7 linked regions of the Homo sapiens genome follow. The protein of the gene in region 6 purifies or fractionates together with the protein of the main gene of each other region. This does not show direct contact. Each region holds a gene or a part of one and is shown on either strand. Other genes may lie near its edges. The genes, in order: PRDM1, MTFR1L, ZNF496, BLTP3B, KIAA0232, FBXO10 and TOMM70.

Evidence for each region.
Region 1: the proteins of FBXO10 (region 6) and PRDM1 purify together in Homo sapiens (co-immunoprecipitation; one study listed by IntAct). This does not show direct contact.
Region 2: the proteins of FBXO10 (region 6) and MTFR1L purify together in Homo sapiens (affinity purification with mass spectrometry; one large-scale study listed by BioGRID and IntAct). This does not show direct contact.
Region 3: the proteins of FBXO10 (region 6) and ZNF496 purify together in Homo sapiens (affinity purification with mass spectrometry; one large-scale study listed by BioGRID and IntAct). This does not show direct contact.
Region 4: the proteins of FBXO10 (region 6) and BLTP3B purify together in Homo sapiens (affinity purification with mass spectrometry; one large-scale study listed by BioGRID and IntAct). This does not show direct contact.
Region 5: the proteins of FBXO10 (region 6) and KIAA0232 purify together in Homo sapiens (affinity purification with mass spectrometry; one large-scale study listed by BioGRID and IntAct). This does not show direct contact.
Region 7: the proteins of FBXO10 (region 6) and TOMM70 purify together in Homo sapiens (affinity purification with western blotting; one study listed by BioGRID). This does not show direct contact.

What each region holds. Positions count from the first base shown.
Region 1 is NC_000006.12:106,096,336-106,099,835, forward strand, and holds part of PRDM1 (PR domain zinc finger protein 1), read left to right. Parts: intron 1-1,753; exon of another isoform or gene 1,754-1,878; intron 1,879-2,605; exon of another isoform or gene 2,606-2,750; coding exon of another isoform or gene 2,751-2,759; intron 2,760-2,964; coding exon 2,965-3,217; intron 3,218-3,500. UniProt on the Homo sapiens protein: Transcription factor that mediates a transcriptional program in various innate and adaptive immune tissue-resident lymphocyte T cell types such as tissue-resident memory T (Trm), natural killer (trNK) and natural killer T (NKT) cells and negatively regulates gene expression of proteins that promote the egress of tissue-resident T-cell populations from non-lymphoid organs.
Region 2 is NC_000001.11:25,822,954-25,826,453, reverse strand, and holds part of MTFR1L (mitochondrial fission regulator 1-like), read right to left. Parts: exon of another isoform or gene 3,436-3,500; 5' UTR 3,350-3,435; coding exon 3,326-3,349; exon of another isoform or gene 2,848-3,325; intron 2,811-2,847; coding exon 2,706-2,810; intron 153-2,705; coding exon 43-152; intron 1-42. UniProt on the Homo sapiens protein: Mitochondrial protein required for adaptation of miochondrial dynamics to metabolic changes. Regulates mitochondrial morphology at steady state and mediates AMPK-dependent stress-induced mitochondrial fragmentation via the control of OPA1 levels.
Region 3 is NC_000001.11:247,325,368-247,328,867, reverse strand, and holds part of ZNF496 (zinc finger protein 496), read left to right. Parts: intron 1-1; coding exon 2-185; intron 186-3,500. UniProt on the Homo sapiens protein: DNA-binding transcription factor that can both act as an activator and a repressor.
Region 4 is NC_000012.12:100,140,075-100,144,151, reverse strand, and holds the start of BLTP3B (bridge-like lipid transfer protein family member 3B), read left to right. Parts: upstream 1-1,277; 5' UTR 1,278-1,516; coding exon 1,517-1,560; intron 1,561-2,386; exon of another isoform or gene 2,387-2,481; intron 2,482-4,077. UniProt on the Homo sapiens protein: Tube-forming lipid transport protein which mediates the transfer of lipids between membranes at organelle contact sites. Required for retrograde traffic of vesicle clusters in the early endocytic pathway to the Golgi complex.
Region 5 is NC_000004.12:6,862,727-6,866,226, reverse strand, and holds part of KIAA0232 (uncharacterized protein KIAA0232), read right to left. Parts: coding exon 2,044-3,500; intron 36-2,043; coding exon of another isoform or gene 1-35.
Region 6 is NC_000009.12:37,510,392-37,513,886, reverse strand, and holds the end of FBXO10 (F-box only protein 10), read left to right. Parts: intron 1-1,165; coding exon 1,166-1,340; 3' UTR 1,341-2,995; downstream 2,996-3,495. UniProt on the Homo sapiens protein: Substrate-recognition component of the SCF (SKP1-CUL1-F-box protein)-type E3 ubiquitin ligase complex. Mediates the ubiquitination and degradation of BCL2, an antiapoptotic protein, thereby playing a role in apoptosis by controlling the stability of BCL2.
Region 7 is NC_000003.12:100,387,590-100,391,089, forward strand, and holds part of TOMM70 (mitochondrial import receptor subunit TOM70), read right to left. Parts: intron 1-3,500. UniProt on the Homo sapiens protein: Acts as a receptor of the preprotein translocase complex of the outer mitochondrial membrane (TOM complex). Recognizes and mediates the translocation of mitochondrial preproteins from the cytosol into the mitochondria in a chaperone dependent manner.

The sequences.
Region 1 (3,500 bases), on a different chromosome or scaffold from region 6:
CGGGGTTCCACTATGTTGGCCATGATGGTCTCGATCTCTGGACCTCGTGATCCGCCCACCTTGGCCTCCCAAAGTGCTGGAATTACAGGCAAGAGCCACCGCGCCCAGCCAGGAATGACAAATGAATTACCTTATAAGTAAATGCCATTAAGGAAGGATAGCTGGAAGATGGGTTGAGGGGAATGGAGGACCACAGAACTAGTCCTATTTAAATACATGTGCATGGTAAAATGATTCCATTTGACAATAGGTTAATTATCTCATAGCATAAGGAAAATGCTTAACAGTCATATGCAAGATGATAAGCTTTCCTATAGCATCCAACCAAAAGATCTAGCCAGTACAATTTCCTTTGCTATATTAGGGTTAGAAAGGCCCCCAGAGGTGAACCAATTAGATGGAATCCTTGAATAAAACACTGGATTAGCAGTGAACAGAAAAAAGTCAGATTGCTTTCCTTCTTCCCATAGATGTCTCAGGGATATTTAGTTTCCTCAGAAGATAAAGAATTTAGTAAGCGTTTTTTTGTGCATACTTACATGAAATGTACATTATTTGAATTCTTTAAAAAGAAACAGCTGCATGATAACAAAAATTGTGTTATGCTTGCTTTAGCTGGTATTTTTGCCTAGAACGATTATATCGTTCGGACAAGAAGCTATTCCTAAGAAACAATATTTTTAATCCAGGAAGTTTTTCATTTTTAGAAATTTATCTTACTATTTCCCAAGCAAAAGAGGGTAGTTACAGATTCACTAAGAATCATGTGCTCACAATTTTTATTTAATAATTATTCCTCCTTAAAATATATTAATCACCTGACTTACAATGGTGGAACCATGAGTGCATTTTTGCCTTTATTGTCAATAACGTCTTCTCAGAAGTGAGCCACAAAGGTGCATAGTTCTTGGAGTTAAAGGTCTGAATTAAGACAATCCAGCATAAGTCTCATTAATGTGTGATTATTTTGAGAAAAGGCAAGAAGTACCTAAGAATCTCCCCCTCACTGTCCAGTTCCCTGTTTCATTTAAAGATTCACTGTAAGTAACTGAAAGGCTTTCCTTGGGAGGATTTATTTGAATCAGTCTTTCACATGCAAAGGATATTGTAGAACATCTCGTTTTTGCTGGCAGGAATATGAACATCTGTTGTGAGGAAAGAAAAAGTTTCATGCAAATTACACTGCCAAAGAAGGGATGTTCAAGTTGAGAAACCAGTGACATTTCTTGTAACTGTACTATGAATCAGCGCATTTTAATCTTCTAGATAATATATGGAAGTGCAGGAAGGTGGTAGGAAACGGTGTTCATTTTACATATGCGTTATTTTATTCTGTGTGAGTGACTTCATGGCACCGACATTGCTGTTTTTAAATGAGGATACAGTAAATTGCAGTCCGAGGAAGGCTAACTGGAATCAACATACCCGTAGCTTTAGAAAGCAGTTTCCGCACCAGCGAAGAGTACAAGAGCGATGGAACCCCATGTTCCTGGAAGTTTGCACATCAGAGTAAACAAACTTGAAAACCCCTCTTGATAGCAGAATTCACCCAGCCTTGTTCCATTTTCTCTTAACAAAACACACCGCAAAAGCTCTCACAAGCTGCTTTGATGAAGCCACATGTATTTCCCCCTTCACAATTTACAGGAAGTTACTCTTAAAAGAAAGTGATTCTGGTGTTTACCGCCTGTGTTAAAGGGACAGAGTTCCTTTTTATTTCTGATAACGTTTGAGCGAAATACAGAAACTATCTGTAGACTAGCATAGTCGGTACGTGAGTAAGGAAAAGCAATAACCTGCTGTCCGGTGAGCACAAAATTCCTGCTACGAACAGTGCCTTACTGCTGCTTGGAGACTGCAAGTCGCAGATCACACTAGGTATTGACTGATTGTATAAGGAAATTTCTTAAAGTCTAAAGTAAAGGTGGTACCTCCTAAAAAGAGGGGAAGAGAGAAAACTTTGTGTGGAAGGATAAGGAGTGTGTTTATAGTTTCAGTAAGAGTGTACGTTTTAATTTTTCTTCTTCCTCTGCCTCTTTGCCAAGTAGCCTGAGTGCATCTGTTATCCAGAAGTAGTATTACTCTAGGACAAACTTCAAATTCTTCATTCTGCGTTGCCTTTAAGGAACAACATACTTTCTTCCTGTTCTTTTTCCAAAAACACACGCCTATGGCTCTGTGTGTGGTGTTTTAGCCAGCCTCCTCCCAGATAAGGGGTTCCCTTCCCTCCTTTGCATTGAAAGGAAAGTGCAAGTCTGGACATGTTTATCAAGAGGAAAAGTGACTTCTCAGTAATAGACTGTCAAATTCGGGCTGCTGCCCGAGTGTTCGCTTTGTTATGGCAGGTGAAGTTCACCTTTGCCCCACCCAGTGTTTCCACAAAAAGGCAAGGTTCCAAGTATTCATATGAACAAGTGTTACTTTAGGACTTGGAGGGTTGGGGGTGGAGGATGTTTGCATAGTTGAAGCCTTGGGCGGGGGTGTAGGAAACGGCGAGTACAGAGGCCATAGAAAAAGCTAAGACTCAGTTTGACGTCGTCAGCCGGCTTGGTCTTCTACCCAGTGACTCAAAGCACTAAAAGTCAGCATAATCGGAACTGAAGTCAGTAGCATCGCCCATTTGCCATTCACTGCAGTAGCAAAAGTAGTACTCTGTGGTGGGTTAATCGGTTTGAGGCAGCTCCTTAAATGAACATTTGTGTTTCATTTTTCTGTTATTTTCCCGAACATGAAAAGACGATAAAACTGAAATGGAAAAGGTAACTGACAAAAGTGTGCCTTACCTGTTTCCGCCCTGATTTCTGCTGATTCAAGACTATTCTGGCTAAACTGATTGGATTCTTTTTCTAACTAGGCAGTAGGGGATCAGAAATCACACACGGTACCGGCTGTGTTTATTCTGAGAGGTGCTGGGGAGCTTTGGGTCTGACTTCCTTTTACATGCCTGTCTTCTCTTTTGGACAGATCTATTCCAGAGGGGAGCTTCACCACTTCATTGACGGCTTTAATGAAGAGAAAAGCAACTGGATGCGCTATGTGAATCCAGCACACTCTCCCCGGGAGCAAAACCTGGCTGCGTGTCAGAACGGGATGAACATCTACTTCTACACCATTAAGCCCATCCCTGCCAACCAGGAACTTCTTGTGTGGTATTGTCGGGACTTTGCAGAAAGGCTTCACTACCCTTATCCCGGAGAGCTGACAATGATGAATCTCAGTAAGTGGATTACAGAACAAAAAAATAAAAAATGCCAGTAATGTCGGTTCTGCCCCTTTGAACTAATAACATGTTGTTTAATTATACGGCTTTGTCATGTGTTGGATGAAGTAGGTGGCTTAAGCTAGGGACTAGGAAGAGGAAAAACATTTTTTGAGTCCCTATTAACTATTAGGAAACTTGATCATTTAAAAGTATATATATATATGAGGAGCTACCTTGAGTTTTGAATTCAGGATGTTACAGGAAGAAATATATGTCCAATTCTAATTTATCCAAAAGC
Region 2 (3,500 bases), on a different chromosome or scaffold from region 6:
AAGTTCTCCATTCCTTAGCAGACCAGCTACTGCCTCAACTACCTGACCCGGGCATATGTCTCCTCTTCATCCGCAGCAATCCAGGCGATGTCAGCCAGGGTAGGGACTGGGGGCACATCTCTCAAACACAGGTCAGAGATGTTGGGCAGGGTCTATGGAGAAGCAAAAGTCATCAACATTTACAGATGCCATGATGAGCCAATCAGAAACTGCAGAATACACAGGAGGGGTACCTAATCCGGCACTGGGTGTCAGGAAGGCTTCCTAGAGGGGGCAGAAGAAGGTTCCTGGTCGAAAACATTGAACAGAGGCCAGATGACAGTCAGGCATGGTGGCTCACACCTGTAATCCCAGCATTTGGGAGGCCGAGGCAGGCAGAATGCTTGAGACCAAGAGTTTGAGATCAGCCTGGGCAACATGGCAAAACCCTGCCTCTACCAAAAAATACAAAAATTATCTGGGTATGGTGGTATACGCCTGTAGTCCCAGCTATTCAGGAGACTGAGGTGGGAAGATGGCTTGAACCTGGGAGGCAGAGGTTGCAGTGAGCTGAGATTGCACCACTGTACTCTAGCGTGGACAACAGAGCCACATTCAAAAACAAAAACAGGCAAGACACATGAGAGTCTATGGGATTACAAACAGTTCTGTGTCTTCAGTGGAAAAGGCCTGAGTCACCTTTTAGTAGAGATGGCAACTGTCTAAAACCACTGTGCCCTCTGGTGAAAATACAAGTACAAGGTCATCCACAACCTGTTACAGCAATAGGAAATTTTTCCTGACTAGCTTTTTATAATCCTGTATAGCTAATTGAGATCTACATTGTTACAGCAATGCTGTTTTAAACAAACCTGAAAATTTGAATATATTTAGATTTAAATAAAAATAAATGATTATACAAAAGGAACCATAATAGGATTTCTTAAAATAGCTCCTCAACCTAGAGATGTTGAGTAAAGTGAAAAATTAGGATTCAGTCATGTTGACTGTGATTACAACAAAGTAAAAAACATCCATCTAGAAAAAGAGGACTACACTAAGACATTAATAGTTATTGTATTATTACTATGTAATTATAGGTAATTTATTTTCCTTTTACTTTTCATAATTTTAATATTTTCATATGCTTAAATTTTCAAAATAAATTGGTAAGAGTCCCTTAAATAATATTTAAGGTAATTTAATAATAATAATAAATGCATATTTACACACAAGTAAGATTCAACTGTTTCTGCTACAAATTATTTGGTATGGTAGATGGATCCAGGATTGATCGCTCCTGCATTTAGATAGGAAACCTGGGACTCACAGGAGTTAAGTGATACTCCAAGGTCACACAGAGAAGAACTTCCAGTGACCCAGGAACTAGTGCTAAAATAGGGCATTTGGGGGAAGCCTCCATTTGTTTTCCTGATTAGCCCTGAATGCTCCTTTGCTCTTGGCAATTAAATGAGTAAACAAATATAAAGTACAGCACAGTGCCTGACACATAGTATGTGCTCAGTAAATGTTATCTAGTATTACCAATACTGCTCACATACATTCCTGCTCTGTGAGAGCCTGTGCCCTTGATTGTCTCTGCCCAGCATCTGGCCAAAGAACTGAAGAGGGTATAGCCAAGTGTGGGGACGGCCTCTATGCAGTGAGCCACACTCCCTAGCTGTCTCCCTTTTTTTTTTCTGATGCTTCTGAGGCAAGTTAGGACCAGTTCCTGCCCAGGATCTTTAGACAATTCTGGATAGCTGGCAATCTGAATACTGGGACAGCTTTTCCTGCCCCCTACCCCTGCGACACTTCCAACTCCATTCCTGACCCTAATACCAACCCTGACACCTCTTCTAATTCCAGATCCAGTTCCTACAGACTCTGCTTCTTAGCATCTTTTATACAGATTTGGCTCCTTCATTTCTGTTTCTACCTGGGCCCACATCCTTTCATGCACATATTTCTATCTCCTCTGTGTGGGTAGAAAGCACAAGTATTTCTTTTGTATCCCAGCTCTCCAAATGCACACATCTGAACCATATAGTTTGGGGCTGGTGCTTAACCATTTAGTTCCTAGAGGGAGGCAGCTGGGACTAATAAATGCTACTTAGCTTTCTACCACAGAAGGGGTCTCAAGAGACCTGGGCCAGGTAGGAATCTCTGCTGCTGAGTGGGTGCTAAAGGATCCCTAGACACAGAGGTAAGACCAAAGCACCCCAGTAAAGGATGCCCAGATTGGCCAAAAAGAGAAGGCTGAGGAATTATGGCCTCAGAGAAACACTAAAAATAGTGGAGCTGGGCATGGTGGCTTGTGCCTGTAATCCCAGCTACATAGGAGGCTGAGGCAGGAGGACTGCTTGAGCCCAGGAGTTTAAGACCTAGCCTGGGCAACATAGGGAGACCTCATCTCAAAAAATAATAAAATAAAAATACTGGCTACATGGTCAATTCTTAGGGCTGGTGAAGAAAAGCAGAGTTCAACTCAAAAATCACAATAGTCAGTGTCCCATGTGGGGGACCTGTCAGGTTCCTTGTGGTCACAGGTTTGTATGCACTCAGGAGGACACAGTGACCAGGATATCTTATAAGCATTTAACAAATATTTCATAACAGAATGAAAAGTGACCAGGAAACAACCTACTTGGGCAGTACCAAGGGGTTTGGGGCACAGAAGCAGCACTGTCTGAGCCTCTACTCTCCTGCCCTTCCAACATACTCACCTCAAAGGACGCCCGGGCACACGGCTTCAAGGGTAGGTTGGTCCCAATTCTTCTTACTACACTTCGAGCAGCCCCATGTGGCTTGTTTTGCCAGATTGGGATGGTCTGGAGCAAAGAGACGGAGACAGCTACAACCCCAGAGAATGAATCCAACTACTGTCCTTGTCCTCTCCTCTCTAGGTTTGTGGAGACTGAATTCCACAAACCTAGGGACAGGGCACTCTCTAGGGGCAAGTCAACTCTCAATTATAGTGAGGGCAGGTTCCCCAGTTGCCAGCCTACACCCTGGCCAGCCACCCAAGGGAATACCTGCTGCTGCTAAGGCAGTCAATGTTGGGAGGGTCAGGGAAGGGGAGAGGAAGTAGCTGAGTGTAGAGATTATCCAGGCTTTCCTTCCCGTCCTCTGTACAGAAAGGCAGACATACACTGACTCCTGAAGTGCCCCAGGATCATAGTTGGTTCTTCTTAGGGGGAGGGAGTGAAACGGTGGCCTTGCTCCAATTCCAGGCCTCTGGAGAAAGGAGTGCTCAACTGGAGAGTCTCAGAACCTTTTACAGTACTTCAGCAGGCCCAGCACCCAACCTTCCCCACCATACCCCTGCCCTGGGAATGCCCCTTACCACAGTGGCTTCCATTCCTGACATTTGAACCAGCTCCTGCACTTGAAGGACAAGGCAGCCACTGGGCAGCTCCGGGAGGCGGGAGGCGTGACTCCTTCATATCAGGCCATCTGGAGGAGCACCAGATTTCCCTCTTGTGAAACAACCCCCCACAGTGGGGATTTAATGGTCACCA
Region 3 (3,500 bases), on a different chromosome or scaffold from region 6:
GCTCAAGCACTGTGAAGACCCTGTGGTGATTGATGATGGGGACAGCCCTCTGGACCAGGAGCAGGAGCAGCTGCCGGTAGAGCCCCACAGCGACCTTGCAAAGAACCAGGATGCCCAGCCCATAACCCTGGCACAGTGCCTGGGGCTCCCAAGCAGACCACCAAGCCAGCTCAGCGGGGACCCAGGTATGCAGCCCAGGGGAGTGTAGCAGGGGTGATCTGGGGAAGTGCACACCCCATACTGTGCACTGGGTGTGGTTTTTGTTAAGCTGATGGCTTTTACATCAGCAGTGTTCTCGTGTCCCCGAGGTGCTGTGAGCTGTTGTCAGGGTCTGAGTCCCTTCCTAGAGCAATTAAATGAGAACCTCATCAGGATGTTTGTCCTCTTCATGGTTCTAGAGCCTCTCAGAGCTAACGCTTCTGTAGGTGGGTGTCACTGAGGTGGTGCCCTCTCATCTCTTCGAGGGTGCATCTCTGCAGGATTTGTCAGTTTGATGACAGCTGGGGACTGCCAGTGTACAGCTGGGGCCTGCTGCATGACTGGAGCATGGCCATTTCTTGTCTCTTGGAACCTCTGTTTCCTTGGCTAAACAACTCCTGTTTACAGGAGTATTGTGATGCTGCGAAGAGATGTAGAAATACTTAGGAGGACACAGGGTGGTGTCTAGTGTGTGGGGCCAGAACATCAGCTACACATAGTTTGAGTATGTATATGAAGTACATGGTAGCTACAGGAAAGTAGTTTTTTCATCAGATAAACTTAGATTTGAATCTTCTGGTTATGACCTGAGGCATGTTTCTAAACTCTGAAAGCCTCAGTTTCTTCCTCTGTCCAGCAGAGATAGTAATTACCTTTTTTGGGGTTTTTGGACAATTAAATGAGATACAACCTACAAAAGGTTGAACACAAGGCCTGAGGTGCCCAAAACTTTAAGTACATATCATGGGAAACCAGCGCCCTTGGGTTGAAGGAAGTCTGGCCCGTGGGTTCCTCTGGGTGGACTTGCCACGGTGCTTTATATGTACAGTGGAAAGAGAGTGTCTGGGGGGCCAGGGGGGCTTTCTTATGACTCTGGGTGGACTTGCCATAGTGCTCTATAGGTACAATGGAAAGAGAGTGTCTGGGGGGCCAGGGGAGACTTTCTTATGACTTGCAGAAGTTGTGTTTGGCATTATGATAAGCTTTTCAGTAATAAAACCAAAATGCCTATTAAATTTCTGTGTGTGGAAAAACTATATTGACTTCTGTACAAATCACATAAACTCTTCAGCCTTTTCTTGCTTATAAATCAAGTTTGGTGTGTTGTTGGCTGCCATAACAAAGTACCACAGACTGGATGCCTTATGTAACAGAAATGTATTCTCTCACAGTTCAGGAGGCTGGAAGTCTGAAGTCAATGTATCAGCAGCCTTGGGTTCTTCTGAAGCCTCTCTCCTTGGCTTGTAGACATGCCTAATGTTAACACTAAGAGAAGTTTGCAGATAGACATTTAGAAGGAGCTAGGGGTTGGGCGCGGTGGCTCACGCCTGTAATCCCAGCACTTTGGGAGGCCAAGGCGGGCGGATCACCTGAGGTCAGGAGTTCGAGACCAGCCTGGCCAAGATGGTGAAACCCCATCGCTACTAAAAATACAAAATTAGTTGTGTGTGGTGGTGGGTGCCTATAATTCCAGCTTTTCGGGAGGCTGAGGCAGGAGAATCACTTGAACCTGGGAGGCGGAGATTGCAGTGAGCTGAGATCACGCCATTGCATTCCAGCCTGGGTAAAAACAGTAAAACTCCATCTCAAAACAAAACAAAAAAAAAGGAGCTAGGAGGGGAAGTCTCTTATGCCACTGGCTCTCTTTGGGACCCGTAAAAACCCATGAATATCCGGCCCTGAAAGCTGACAACAAGCTTTGTGCCAGGACTCTTGATGACGGGCGGTTTTCTTTCAGGGAAAGGAAGAGGAAGATGTTTACACTAAGAGAAGTTTGCAGAGCAGGTGTAACAGACACCTTCTCTCTCTGGGTCTCTTTATGTGGTCTTTCCTTTGTGTGTGTCTGTGTCTTAATCTCCTCTTCTTATAAGTACACCAGTCCTATTGGATTAGGGCCCACCCATATGACCTGATTTTATCTTAATGACCTCTTTAAAGACCCTATCTCCAAATACTCAGTCGCATTCTGAGGTACCTAAGGGTTAGGGCTTCAACATAGGAATTTGAGAGGGCCATAACTTAGCCTGTAACAACAGGTATAAGGGAAGCAGCCAGTCGCCCACATAATGCACGTGCAAGTAGCTTGGGTTATGCAGGAAGTGGGGGGCTGTGAGAGGCCTTGTAGTGGGGTCTGGGAAGGCATGCAGGTGGAGAGGAAGAAGTTTCAGGAACTACAGTAGCCTGTGCAGTTGCTTCTTGATAAAGTTCTGAGATAAGCCAGCAACCACAGATGGGCTTTAGGAAAACAGGGCCAGCTCTCCCATTTCCATGAGCAATAATCAATAGGCAAAGTAGGTATGATGAGAGTTAGCAATCAGGAAAACCTTAACTATTGGGACAGTTCATCATTGGAATGCACTACCTATCAGAGCTGTATAGTTCCTCATCTTGAAGATCTTCCCCAAAAGCTAGATTTTGTGTAGGGTCTGCAACTCTCCGAAGTGATTCTTGAAAGGGTCCATGTATTCATTTATCGGGGCCAAAAGTAGGGTGGGACTACATATTCATATATATATATATATATGTGTGTATATATATATATGTATGTATATATATGTGTGTGTATATATATGTGTGTGTATATATGTGTGTGTGTGTGTATATATGTGTGTGTGTGTGTATATATATATATGCGTGTGTATATATATATATACATATGTCTCAGCCTCCCAAAGTGTTGGGATTACAGGCGTGAGCCACTGTGCCCGGCCAACATGATTTTAAACTTGGAGAAGGGAGGGCTAGGGATGGGAAGGAGTTAGCCAGGTTACCCAGTTAGGGGGCATCTCCATTCATATATATATGAATATCTGGGATAGCTACATATCCCAGAAGGTGGCAGGTGTGAGGAAGCAGAACTAAAACACCACCTCCTAGCCAGGCATGGTGGCTCATGCCTATAGTTCCAGCTACTCAGGGGGCTGAAGCAGGAGGATTGCTTGAGGCCAGGAGTTTGAGACCAGCCTGGGCAACATAGCGAGAACCCACCTCTAAAAAATAAAACACCCCCTCTGGGAGACATCGGTCAAAGAGTACAAAGTTTCCGTTAGGTAAGATGAATAAATTCTGGAGATCTATGGTACAGCATGGTGAGGTTGATGAAAAATAATGCATCTTATACTTGAAAATTGCTAAGAAAGTAAATAAGAAATGTTCTCGTCACAAAAATATATGAGGTATAGATTTGTTAATTAGCTTAATTTAATCATTTCACAATGTATAGTTATCACATTGTACAGTTTTCGTATACAAAATACATACAATTTTTGTCAATTATAGCTTAATAAAACTGGGAGGTAAAA
Region 4 (4,077 bases), on a different chromosome or scaffold from region 6:
CGCCACTATGCCCAGCTAATTTTTGTATTTTTTTTTTGTAGACACAGAGTTTCACCATGTTGGTCAGGCTGGTCTTGAACTCCTGACCTCAAGTGATCTGCCTGCCTCGGCCTCCCAAAGTGCTGGGATGACAGAAGTCGTCATTTTAATCTCTGAAAATGTTAGCTCTGTTTGGGATTGGGTGGGGTGGAGGTGTAGAATTGTAACAGTTTTCCCTAGTTCAACAATTTCCTTCCTTCCTTACAGAACTTTTCATATGATATTTACACCTTTAGGTTCAACCTAGTGAAGTGGGTAAGGCTGATGATTAATCTATTTCACAGATGATTAAAATGAAACTAATAGTAAAGAAATTATTTTCCCCAGGATAACACAGCTAGAAAATACCAGAGCCAGGACTTGAATTATACACCTTCTAATTCCTAGGTCCTAGACTACTAGGAACCATTGTCAACCTTTACTTCCCTTAGAATAGCAATAACCAAAGGAAACATTAAATTGCCACATTTAGGTAAGGGAAAGGCAGGACACCTTAACAAAAGAAAAAAAAAAAACACCAAAAACAAAAACCTAAGGAAGAATATGAAGAAAGGTGAGTAGGTCAAGAGAGCAAAGCAAGCACAGGAGTTAATGGCCGATTCTTAAAACATTCTAAGGAGGCCGGGTGCAGTGGCTCACGCCTGTAATGTCAGCACTTTGGGAGGCTAGGAGGGTGGATCACGAGGTGAGAAGTTCGAGACCTACTGGCCAATATGGTGAAACCTCGTCTCTAATAATACAAAAATTAGCCGGCCGTGGTGGTGCGCACCTGTAATCCCAGCTACTCAGGAGGCTGAAGCAGGAGAATCGCTTGAACCCTGGAGGTGGAGGTTGCAATGAGCCGAGATCGTACCACTGGACTCCAGCCTGTGTGACAGAGCAAGACTTGTCTCAAAAAAAAAAACAAACAAGCAAAAAAATAAAAAACATTCTGAGGAAATGAATAAGGGAAGTAGGACGTGGAAGTAAAAATCAGCGACGGGTCAGCGATGGAGGCGGGAACACCAGCAGAGGGAAGGAGGGAGGATTAAGGCCAAGAAGGATGGTGTATTGAGAGTCAAGGGCCCTGTGTCGCGAGGGCTAAGAACCCTGGCGCCAATGCCACAAACCTCCCGCCCCCGCCCAGAGCCCAGCCAGAGCCCAGCCAGAGCCCGCCCAGAGCCCGCCCAGAGCCGGCGTTGGCCCCGCCCCGCCTCGTGCCGGCCCCGCCTGGAGCCGCCCCGCCCCCGCCCTCCACCGAGTCTCTTAGGTGATGCTGCAGCCAAGATGGCGCCCGCGGCGGCCGTGGCGGCCTGAGCGTGATGCTCCGGGTTCTCGGCGGCGGCTGTGGCCTTGGCCGGGGCCTTGGGTCTCTCCCGGTCGTGAGCGATCAGCGCCTCTCCGCCGGCCGGGCTAGCCGGGACAGAGAGGAGACGGCCACGAAGAGAGGAGGCAGTGAGCAACAGGACGAGACCGCGGCGTCTCCAGCCTCGGTACCATGGCCGGGATCATCAAGAAACAAATCTTGAAGCACCTCTCCAGGTCAGTGAGCGCCTCGGTGTCGGCGCCAGTCGGCCTCCACCCCAGCCCGCACTGGAGTCAGCCTGCGGCTTCGGGGGCGGCGGCGCCTGGCGGCTGTGCGGGAGGCGACCTTCGGACTTCCCCGCTCTGGCCGGGGCAGAGGTCGCGGCCCCGGATCTCTTGTCGCCGGCGGCGCCGGGGGCTGGCCTCACGAATCGGCCCCTGACGCGTCTTCTCCCAGGGTGGGCGCGCGGAGGAGCCCGGAGTGCGGAGCGCGGCGGGCTGGGATCGCTCCCGGCGCGGCGTCTGGGGGCGTCCCGGCTCGGCTCTGTGCGGTACTGAGCGGAGGCTGGAGGTGGCCTGGCGTCACCCAAGTGCCTGGTTAATGTGCTGGGCTCTAACTCGAGTTCGGTGCTCCTTCCCCTTGGAGCAGAGCGGTTCCGTTAACCGAGGGCTTCTGGCGCAGTGTGGACGCTCAGTGGAGGCTGTGTTCTCAGTGGAACGTTAACCTTGTGATTGTTCTGAATTCCTCCCACCTTGGCGTTCCCGCTCTGTGGCATCAGAGGGTGTGCCTGTTTGCACAGTTAGGATTTGTTTTAGGTAAATAAGCAGAGTTCGCAGCTTTGGCAGGTTCTTTCTGGAGTCCTATGAGACCCACATCATTATTACTGAACATTTTTTTTTTTTGGTTTTTGCTCTTTTTCCTCTGCAACTCTAAAATTCAGGGAGTTAACATCTGTGGTGATTAAACCCAAGACATGTCATTCTCTCCATTTCATAACGCGGTTTTAGTCAGAAACATGACTCAGTAAGGCTGGCAGTTTGTTACTGCTCTTGGCTTCTCCGTGTTTGTCTCAAGACACAGGCTAAATGTAGGCTCTTGTTCCAAGTTGTTACCAGCGAACTCAAAGCCCTTGGTTAGGATCCCTTTCTGTTCGATTTGTAAGTTAATTTTAACTAATTTTGGGAAGACACGGGTATGATTATAGACTTGTATAGTAAACATAATTCTTGATTCCCCAGATTGTCTTATACCACAGGTTATATATTGGGAACAGAATTCTACTTCTGTGATTCAGCAAATATTTTCCTCACTTATAATACTGAATAAGATATAGCACTTTTCTTAAAAGTAGCAAAGTATAGCAGCGTGTGTGTGTGTGTGTACATATATATACATATGTACATATATACATATACATATATACACATATATACACATACATATATATGTGTACTACATATATATGTGTATACACTACACATATATATGTGTATATATGTAGTATTTTTTTAGTAGAGACTGGGTTTCACCAGGCCAGGCTGGTCTTGAACTCCCAACCTCAGGTGATCCGCGGTCCTCGGCCTCCCAGAGTGCTGGGATTACAGGTGTGAGCCCCCACGCCCTGCATGAATATGTATTTCTTAATGTTATCACTCATTGAAAAGTTTCTTTTAAAATTATATATATGGCCCAATCTTGAACTATCTTATTTTGGAAGGTTTTATCTATTTTTAATTTATGTCCTCCCGCCTTTCTCATACCCAGCTCCACAAGAAAATACAGATCTGCAGAAAATGATTTGAATGCCTACTTTCTCACTCGTCCAAGGATGATGCTGCATAGCTAGTACCACTCTAGATGCTTGGAAGAAAAGTTAATTCAATCAACAGATAGTGCATTAGAGTTTAATTCTTTTATAGAACTCCATTTGAGAGGGGCTCTTAAAAATTAAGAGCATGCATACCAAAGTATAATAAAAAAAATTAAGAACAAAGATGTAATGGCTTACTGCATGAGATAGAAAACACCCATATATTGAAAATTGAGTCTTTAGGGCTAGTTTTTATTTTATTTTATATATATATATATATATATATATTTTTTTTTTTTTTTTTTTTTTTTTTGAGACAGAGTCTCACTCTGTTTCCCAGACTGGAGTGCAATGGCATGATCTCGGCTCACGGCAGCCTCTGCCTCCTGGCTTCAATCAGTTCTCCTGCCTCAGCCTCCCGAGTAGCTGGGATTACAGGCATGCGCCACCACGCCTGGCTAATTTTGTATTTTTAGTAGAGACAGGGTTTTTCCATGGTGGTTAGGCTGGTCTCAAACTCCCAACCTCAGGTGATCCGCCTGCCTTGGCCTCCCAAAGTGCTGGGATTACAGGTGTGAGCCACCGTGCCTGGCCCTTAGGGTTAGTTTCTAAATCTGTATGATTTGTAATAGCTGTGTGATAAATAGTGTGATGAGGATTTTTTTTTTTTTCAGAGATGAGTTTTTGGGACACTTGAGTTTTCAGTTATTTCATATTTCAAAACATCCTTAACTCAGGTGACTAAAGAGTATCAAATTTTTATTTTTGGTTAATAAGTTAATCTTACTGCTAATTGCTGTCATCTCCTAAGAAAAATAGTTATTCAGAAATCTAAAGGCAGCTCGTAATTGACAAAAGAAGGCAGGTGTTGTGATAAATTATAGTTACTCAGGAAGGAATGAACTTTTGAAATTACCTGGTTCAAGTTTAATTTTATAGAATA
Region 5 (3,500 bases), on a different chromosome or scaffold from region 6:
ATCTTGCTTCTTTCCTCTTTTTCTTTCTTCCCAATCTGGAACCAGGTGAAATACAAAGTACATAAAGGAATATTTAAGGATGAAAAATGGGGCAATAAACAAACAGATAAAGGCTAACAATATTATTGGGTTTTTTCTTAGCAGTGTTTCAATGGGATTAAATTCATCCTCTACGGGTCTCTAGGTAGCTGATTAGAGCAGTGCCTCTCAAGTCGCCTGGGGGCTTCCTAGAATCACAGGCAAGCAGTCCCACACCTGGGCACTCTGATGCGACAAATAAGTAAGGCATGGTCCACAGCCACAAGGAGCTTATAGTCCAGGATATAAATAACTCATGAGAAATGAAAAATGCAATCAAAAAGAGGCATAAAGTGCATGAAAATTAAGAGAGGGGCAAAATTAATTCTGATGCAGAGTGGGGCTGGAGCAGGGGAGAGAGGGAATTAGGGAAAGTGTCAGTGAAGGAGGTGGTATATGAAATAAGTCTCATGGTATGGGTAGGATTTGGATGTGCAATGGTGGGTAGGGTGTGCAGGACAGTTGGGAGGAAGTGCAACACTCATCTGCTCTCTGGCCACAGGTGGCATGGCTTCTAAACACCTCCATCTCTTTTTTTCAATAAGCTGGGCCGGACGCGGTGGCTCACGCCTGTAATCCCAACACTTTGGGAGGCCAAGGCAGGTGGATCACTTGAAGTTAGGAGTTCAAGACCAGCCTGGCCAACCTGGTAAAACCCCGTCTCTACTAAAAATACAAATAATTAGCCGGGCGTGGTGGCGCATGCCTTTAATCCCAGCTACTTGGGAGGCTGAGGCAGGAGAATCACTTGAACCTGGGAGGTGGAGGTTGCAGTGAGCTGAGATCGCACCACTGCACTCAAGCCTGGGCGACAGAGCGAGACTCTGTCCCCAAAACAAAACAAAAACAAAAACAAAATTAAATAAACTATTTCTGGAGAAAGGCTAGGCACTCACATATCGAAAACAGTGGAAAAATGGGCAGACTGCTGTGCTTTTTTTGTGAAACAGTTTATTGTCTTAAGTGTTATTTCTTGTACAATCAGTTTAACCTTAAGCCATTTCTTGGGCATACAGTGGAGAGGTACAATGACTCTCATTAACACAACTTAATGTGATCCTCATTCCATAGCCTTAACATATAATCCACACAGCTTCTGGAATATGTACTTTGTATAAAGCAAGATACATCTGTATAGGTTCTGTAGAAGAAATTTTGTTGCATTTGGGCTGTGGGTGAATTTCTACATGTACCACAATGTATTTTTGAGAACTCCATAGAGATATAATTTGTTTTATATGTAAAACACAAGTTTTGATAAAGTGATCAACTTCTAAGAGTCAGTTAGACAGGTTTGCTACACTTTAATAGCAGCCACTTCCTGATTCATCAACTTTGAATGTTAGAACACTTTCATGTTAGGTTTTTGCTTTAAGCATAATACATGTATTTTTTTTTTTTTTTTTTTTTTGAGATGGAGTCTCACCCTGTCACCCAGGCTGGAGTACAGAACACGATCTCGGCTCACTGCAACCTTTGCCTCTCGGGTTCAAGTGATTCTCCTGCCTCAGCCTCCCAAGGAGCTGGGATTACAGGTGCCTGCCACCACGCCTGGGTAATTTTTGTATTTTTAGTAGAGACGGGGTCTCACCATGTTGGCCAAGCTGGTCTTGAACTCCTGACCTCAAATGATCTACCCACTTCGGCCTCCCAAAGTGCTGGGATTACAGGCGTGAGCCACTGCACCCGGCCAATAACATGCATCTTAAGACAACACATAGGAATCTTACATCCTGTGATTTTTAAAAGCTTTTTCTCTCCAGAAAAACTCTACTGTCTAGTTCAAATTCATAAATATCAAATCCATTTTAAGTCCTTACATGTAAAATTAGAACAATTTAAGTTTTAAGACATTTAAGCTAATTTCCCAATAATTTAACCCTATCTTTCATTGACTGGCATGTCTGTTCTTGGGTTAAACTCTGATCAAATCCTTTTGTCAAATACCAACACGCAGACACATACCTCTTCCAGCTGTCCCGAAGAAACTGGATTATCTTCATAAGCAGGAAACTGACAACCTGCTTTGCAACCACAAAAATTATTAATTTCTTCCTCGCATTGTGCCATTATTTTACAATTTGCTTCTGAGCTTTCTAAATCTATTTCCAGGGATTCATTCATGCTACATTCCAAACACTGATTTTGCTTTCCTACTGAAAGAATCCCAGTTGATTCCTCCTGGGAATCCAGTGATGTCTGAGCACTCTTTTCCATCCCAGATTTTTTTAACCTGGGAAGGAATTTTCCAGACTCAAGCTCTGATTTTCCATAGTAATGGCCTTCTTTCTCTGCATCTTCTTCCAAAGGTTTGAGATCTGCCTGCGGATCTTCAAATATATCAACTTGAGAAGGAATGGGAATATTTGCTTCATCTTTCTCAGATTCAAATTCTGACTCGCTTCCTCCTCCTGGGGACAGTTCGGATGCAGAAATTGGGCGAAAGTGAGTCCGAGGAGAGATCCGAATAGCCCTGTATTGTGTTCTGTCAACACCACATATCCTGGGGTGAAACACTTCACTGTCTGAATCAGAACAGAGGATTGATTTCGGTTTAAAACTGGGGCTGAAAGATGCAATCCCTTCAGGTTCAAATGAGCATTCTACATGAAGAACTTGTGAAAATGGATTGCTTAAGTCAAAGGAAGAAAATGAGTATTCAAGTCCAGGATCTTCGACTTGAAAGTTGCCACAAGCTCCTAGTAAGTCTTCATGGAAGATAAAAGAAAATCCCTTATTTAACCCATTTTCCCCACTCTTCGGCTGATCATTCTGTTCAAATGACACGAAGGGTTTCCATAACTGCCTGTGCCCAGGAGCAAAACTGTTTCCTGGGGTCATAAAGACATCTGTACCAGCTATCGTCACAACATCAGAAGCTGCACACTGTAACAGACTTCCTTTTGTGTGACTAGGTGGTACGACTGCCCACTCCCCATCACTATTGAAGGTTTTGAGTTCTCCATAAACTCCTCCAAGAATGAATGTGTTTTCTTTATCTTGGGCTACATCCCAGGGTTTAGAGGGTGTTGTATAATCACCACCATCCACGTTTGATAGCTCACTAGAAGCAAATGCTCTTTTCTCCAGGCTCTCTTTCTGTCCCTCCCACAGATGGTACTCTGACCTCCGCACAGCCTTATCAGGCTCCTGAAGGGTCTCCAGTTCAGCTTCAGCATCTAGACAGCAGCAGTAGTTATTTACATCTGCCGAAAACAACTCAGCATCAGTTCTTTCTATTTCTACTGTAGCCACAGAATTTGTGTCTGCCATCTTTGTCCAAATGTCTTTAATAACCCCTGAGCTGTAGCCATCTCCATGTGGACTTTCATTACATACTTGTGTAGTTTCAAAATTTTTGTTTTCTGTTTTTTGTTCTAGCTGAATACCACAGACGGATTCTAGTTTAGATGTTTTTTTGA
Region 6 (3,495 bases):
CGGGTGCGGTGGCTCACGCCTGTAATCCCAGCACTTTGGGAGGCCGAGGTGGGTGGATCACCTGAGGTCGGGATTTCGAGACCAGCCTGGCCAACATGGTGAAACCCCATCTCTACTAAAAATACAAAAATTAGCTGGGCATCATGGCACGCAACTGTAGTCCCAGCTACTCGGGAGGCTGAGCCAGGAGGATCACTCGAACCTGGGAGGAAGAGGTTGCAGTGAACCCAGATCACACTACTGCACTCCAGCCTGGGTAACAGAGCAAGACTCCGTCTCGGAAAAAATATATATATATATTAAAAAATAAAAGTAAAAACAAAAAAAACCCAGAAATCCTGCAGTATGTAGTCTTTTGAGTCTGGCTTCTTTCACTTAGCCTAACATGCTGGAGATTCATTCATGGTGTTGCATGTAAGGCGTTCATTCCTTTCAATTGCTGAGTAGTCTTCCCCTGTATGGGTGTACTGCACAGTTTATTCACTCATCAGCTGAAGCGTATTTAGGTAGTTTCTAGTTTTTGGTGATTATGAATAAAGCTTCTATAAACATTTGTGGTCATAGAGCTGAAAAGAAATGAAAGAGGAAAAGCTGGCACCGTGGCACACACCTATAATCCCAGCTACTTGGGAAGCTGAGGCAGGAGGATCACTTGAGCCCAGGAGTTTAAGACCGGCTTGGGCAACATAATGAGACCCTGTCTCACAACAACCACCCTATGATCTTATCCAGATCCTTATTTAAAGTGGAGAAGTCGGCTGGATGCAGTGGCTCAAGCCTATAATCCCAGCACTTTGGGAGGCTGAGGTGGGAGGATCACTTGAGCCCAGGAGGTTGAGGCTGCAGTGAGCCATGATCGTGCCACTGCACCCCAGCCTGGGCAACAGAGTGTCTCAAAGCGGGAAAATTGAGGCCTACAGAGGGACCTTGTCCAAGGCTACATGCAGAGTTGAAGGCAGAGCTGGACGTGGAATGCAGGGCTTTTGCTCCTTAGTTTCTCAACAGCCCACCTCTTTGGACTAACACTAAACTGGAAGATAAAACCTACACCCAGATTTAAACACCTGGATCCACCGATCTGGAACCCAAGTTAAGACTGTGCAGGGCATTCAGCCAGCACTGCACACCCCTCAGAAGTTCACTGACTTTCGTTTTGCACCTCCAGGTCTGATACGTGGCGCCTGGTGAACCCACCAGCACGGCCCCACCTTGAAAATTCTCTCAGACGTCCCTCGGCAGCCCACAATGGGCAGAAGGTGACAGCCATGGCAACGAGGATCACAGCCCGGGTGGAAGGTGGTTACCACAGCAACCGCAGTGTCTTCTGCACCATCCTGTGAGGACACAGACCTGCTTCAGGGCCAAGCCTGGATGGGTGCTCAGAGGAGCTAAGGTGGAAATACTGCCTGAAAAGACTCCGCCCCTCCCCCTCCCCCTCGAACAAATGGGTCCCGGGCCTCCAAAACACGGTACCTCCAGAACACTTCAGCTCCACAGCCCATAGCAAGAAGAAAGTGGGCAATGTTTTTCAGGGAGAAGGGATAGAAGCTGGTGGGTTTCCAGTCACTCGAAGTCTATAAAGATTGTGAAGAGCGGGGGAAGCTCAAATGCTGAAGCTTTTGGTCAGGATTTTCTCTGAGTTCTAAGGAACTGTGTTTTACACACACCAAACCCAGACTCTTCTCAGGAAAGAGCAGATTTACTTCTGATGGCGGGAAGTGATTCTAGTGAGGTGGAGAGAGACAACTGCTCCAGAATTTTCCCCTTTGCTAGAGCTGTCTCCCTCTCAATCCCTCCAGGGACCCCACCACACCCTCCCAGCTGTCTCTGGAGGCTGGAGGAGTTGAGTTTGGTTGACTTGAGGACTTGGACATGGACCTGGGAGGAAGGAAGGACCTGGGAGCAACAGGAGACCCCATGGAAAGGCTGCCCCAGGGATGACAAGAGGGACATGCTGAAACAGGTGGGGCTGCAGCGTGCAGGCAGATGCTAGGCTGGGTGGGCAGGGATGCACAAGGCTCTACTCCATCCCCAGAGAGCTCCCAAATGCAGAAGGATTCAAACCCCATGTGAGCGTGCCCACACCAGCCGCCCCTCCTGAGCATCAGCCTGTTCAGATGAGGGTACCTGGGCCTCTCGTTCGCATCTGTGTTCTCATGGATGAGCGCTGGTCTTTACTGACCCTCCCAAGCCTCCCCACTCTGTGCCTTGGCTCATGCTCTTTCCTCCTCCCGGCATGCCCTTCTCCCCCATCTCCGTGTCCTCGTTCCTCAAGGTTTAGCCGAGACACTGCCACCTCCACATAGCTCTCCCTGCCCTCTTTCCCCCTCTGGGCCTCAGTGGCCTTTCTCTGCTCCCTCTCAGGGTACTGAGCACTTTCTGCCTTGTCCTGGAGCTATCTGGGTCCATTGCCTGACCCCCCACTCACCTGTGTGCTCCCCGTAGGTAGGGCCACTTCTGACTGTGTGTCCCCAGATCCAGCCTGGGGTTGGGGTAGGATTAGTGGCCTGAGTGAGGAGAGGAAGGCCAGCTCCCAGAGGACTTTACTGAACCGTACTGTGAATATGTCCAAGTCCCAAAGCCAGGTGAGGTCAGACCCCACTGCCTGAGGAAGAGGGCTGGATGCAGGGCCAGCTCAACCTGAACAATCCCCTCCCACTCGGCCTTTCCTGTGGGGCCTTCACCAGCCTGCTGGGGTCACTGTCGTGCACTTGGCTGCGTGGCTGGTTCTATTGGCCCTAGGTGCTGCTCTGTTGGGTGGGATGGGAGGGGGTAGAGGGAGCCAGGAGCACTGGGTTCTCCCTGAGAACACTGGGCACAAGAGTACTGGCCTCTTCTATCCCTGGCACTGTCCTTTGCACTTGTTTGGTGGCCCCAATGTGAGTCGCTGTAAAAAATGCTGCCGTTACTATTTTCTAAGAAATGACTTTTCTGTGAACCAACAGTAACAAAAACCTCAGTAACCAAAATAAAGTTCTATATTTTAAAAAAGGCACTTTTGGAAGCCTTTCCTTAGTCTGGGCATATACTGGGGCTCCCAGCTGGCCAGGCCCAGCACTGTTTCCTCTGAAGGAGACAGGAGAATCCTGGGGCCATCTTGTTGGGTCAGCTTGTTCCTGTGACAGTTCCAGATATAGGGCTGAAGGGCTCAATCGGGCTATAATTCCACTCCTGCCTGCTCTGTGAAGACAACAGAAACAGGCCGTCCCCATGGATCACTGGACTGTCAGCTTAGGGACCTCAGACCCCGGAGCACACTTCCCCAACTTCACTTACTCAGCATCTTAGAATTTTTGCTATATCCATATGTCACCTGAGAAGTTAGTACTTTTTTCTTTAAATCTACTTAATTTTTAGAAGTTTTAAATATGCAGAAAAATTGAGCAGACAGATGATTACTAGAGTTCCCATATCACCCTTGCCACCCCCGAGTTTCTGTGTTATTAACATCTTATGCTATCAGTGTACATTTGTAAAAATTCATAAACTAGTACT
Region 7 (3,500 bases), on a different chromosome or scaffold from region 6:
ACAGACACAGACACACACACACACACACACACACACACACACACACGTATATACTTTTTTTTTTTTTCTTGAGACAGGGTCTGTCGCCCAGGCTGGAGTGCAGTGGCACAATCTTGGCTTGCTGCAACCTCCACCTCCTAGGTTCAAGTGATTCTCCTGCCTCAGCCTCCCGAGTAGCTAGGGCTACCAGCGTGCACTACCACATCTGGCTAATTTTTTAATTTTTAGTAGAGATGGGGTTTTGCCATGTTGCCCAGGCTGGAGTCTTATATGTTTTTAATTTCAAAAACACTCAGACTTTTTCAAAAAGGCTGCAGTACTTTAAAGTTTTTAAAGGATTTAAAGTGCGCAAAGGATTTCTAGGAAGCTCTAAGTATCTAAGATCAGAATATTATATAGCTACTTTAAGCTAGCTAGTGTCAACCAGAATGTATATTTTAAAACTGATGTGGGAGGATGAAAGGAACCAAGACAAGCACATATAAATTAATAGATGAACTTAAAATCTTCCATTTGTCAGTAGACTTAATTATGTTCCAAAAGCTTTGAGACATAAATTTAATTTCAAGGATACATATGTTTCAGGACTATGAATATGTGCCAGGACTAACAGAGACTGCTACAGGACTGACAGAGAAACACCCACAAAACACCCACAATAAAGCAAAACTAGGAATCCCTTATGTAGTTGTGGGCTCTGGGGGGCAATCGTCAGGGTGATTGCTAGAAAACTTGCATTTGAGACAACCTCAACAATCCTCCCACTCCACTGGAGGAAGCAGAAATCACATTAGAGTAGGGCTGTGTCATTCAGGAGTGAGGATCTTCTATATGAGAGACAAGTGGCCAGGTACCATGGCACACACCTATCGTTTCAGATACTTGGGATGCTGAGGCAGAACTGCTTGAGCCCAGGAGTTTGAGATTAGCCTGGACAACATATTGAGACATTGAGACCAGACTCTCTTAAAAGAGACAAATGACAGTGACAGGGCATACCATACCTTGCCTCTGTTTTTTAAGAGACCACACAATCGAGAATTGCTAACAAAAGGGAAAAACAACCCATAAAAAAAGAGGCCCCCAACTCAAATATAAAAGTAGTATCTGAGAAAGCAGGATATACCAAGCAAACAAAAAATTTAGTTTCAAAAAAATGAGAGGCTATCTTCCCATCATTAAAAGAGGTTGCTTTTAAAGAGCACTAATTAGAAATCTTAAAAATGAAAAAAGATTATTACAATTAATTCAGCAGATTGGCTGTATATTAAAGAAGCGAGCTGAGGAGCAAATTAACAAGTAGAGAATGGGGGAAACCTGACAGAATGCCATGGAAACAGAGGACAGGGAGGTGGGAAGTTTGGAGAAATTAAATGACATGAAGTATAAATCCAGAAGTTCCATCATTTGCCTATGTGGAGTTCTAAAAGGAAAGGCATAGAAAAAAAAAATCTAAGGAATTGGAGAAATTCTCGGAGTTGAAGAAAAATGACATGCATTTTTAGACACATCATGGTGAAATTTCACAACAAAAATCCTGAAAGTATTTAAAAAGAAAAACAATCCAGTGCCAGACTGTCACCAACATTTGGTACTAAAAACCAATTAAGTAACAATTTCAAAGTTCTAAAGCAAGATTATTTTGTAACTAAAGTCTTATACCTAGCTAAACTAGCATTTGAGGTTGAACACAAGAACAGAAATAGAAATGTACAGCTTCCTTACCACTAAAAATAAACCCCCAAATAGGGAAATGACCAATACAACAAAAAGCAGAAAGGAAGGAAAAATAAGAAACAAAAAAGCAGAGTAAATATGGCAGTAATTGCTAAACATGTAAATAGTAAAAATAAATGTGAGTAGTTTAGAGCCCTGCATTGAAAGACTTTCAAATTGTTTAAAACCAAAACTAACTACCTGCTGCCTATAAGGCATGATGTAAAACCAAATGACATACTAAGGCCAAACAATTTTTTTTTAAAAAAGGAATGTAAAAAGTTGTGGAAGGTGAATACTAAAAAATAAAAATTAAGGTAATATAGACAAAATACCATTCAAAAGCATCACATGATGTCCAGATAGTTTTACTGATAAAAGGTTCAATCTGTAAAAAAGGCACAATAATCATGAATCTTCATTTATCTAATAAAGGTTTAAAATAAACTCAATTGGCTGGGTGCAGTGGCTCACGCCTGTAATCCCAGCACTTTGGGAGGCTGAGGCGGGTGGATTACCTCAGGTCAGGAGTTCGAGACCAGCCTGGCCAACGTGGTGAAACCCTGTCTCTACAAAAATAGAAAAATTAGCCAGGATGGTGGCAGGCACCTGTAGTCCCAGCTACTCAGGAGGCTAAGGCAGAAGAATCACCTGAACTCAGGAGGCGGAGGTTGCAGTGAGCCGAGATCACACCACTGCACTCCAGCCTGGGAGACAGAGTGTGACTCCATCTAAAAAAAAAGAAACAAAGGAAACAAACTCAAGTATCATTGTCTCATGCACCACTGGCTCCAAGACAAAAGGTCATTAAAGTTAAAGACAAACAGAATCATCAGGATAATTACATCTTTTTCTTTTTGCCAAGCAAGTATAATTGAATTTATTTTAGTTGATATGATTCTACTATACAATAACCAACAGTGTAGTCTTTATCCTGAAGGACCATACTGTAGACTAGTGTAGGAAACAAACAACCGTCAATCTCGCAAAAGAACTATTACTGATAGAAACACTAAAATCCCATTATGAAAATGTACAGTTATACACCACATAACAATGTTTTAGTCAATAACAGACTGAATATACAATGGTGGTCCCATAAGATTATCATGGAGCTGAAAAATTCCTATTGCCTAGTGATGTCACAGCCATTGTAATGCACTACTCATGTATCTGTGGTGCTGCCGGTATAAACAAACCTACTATGCTGTTAGATGTATAAAAGTATAGCATATATTGGGGCCGGGTGCAGTGGCTCATGCCTGTAATCCCAGCACTTTGGGAGGCCAAGGCAGTAGATCATTTGAGATCAGGAGTTTGAAACCAGCCTGACCAACACGGTGAAACCCCATGTCCACTAAAAATACAAAACAATTAGCCAGGTGTGGTGGCGAGCGCCTGTAATCCCAGCTACTCAGAAGGCTGAGTCAGGAGAATCACGCGAACCTGGGAGGCAGAGGTTGTAGTGAGCCAAGATTGCGCCACTGCACTCCAGCCTGGGAAACAGAGGGAGACTGCATCCCAAAAGAAACAAAAACAAAAACAAAAAACAGGCTGAGTGCGGCGGCTCACGCTTGTAATTCCAGCACTTTGGGAGGCTGAGGCGGGTGGATCATGAGGTCAGGAGATCAAGACCATCCTGGCTAACACGGTGAAACCCCGTCTCTACTAAAAATACAAAAAAAATTAGCCAGGTGTGGTGGTGGGCGCCTGTAGTCCCAGCTACTCAGGAGGCTGAGGCAGGAGAATGGTGTGAACCTGGGAGGCGGCGCTTGCAGTGAGCC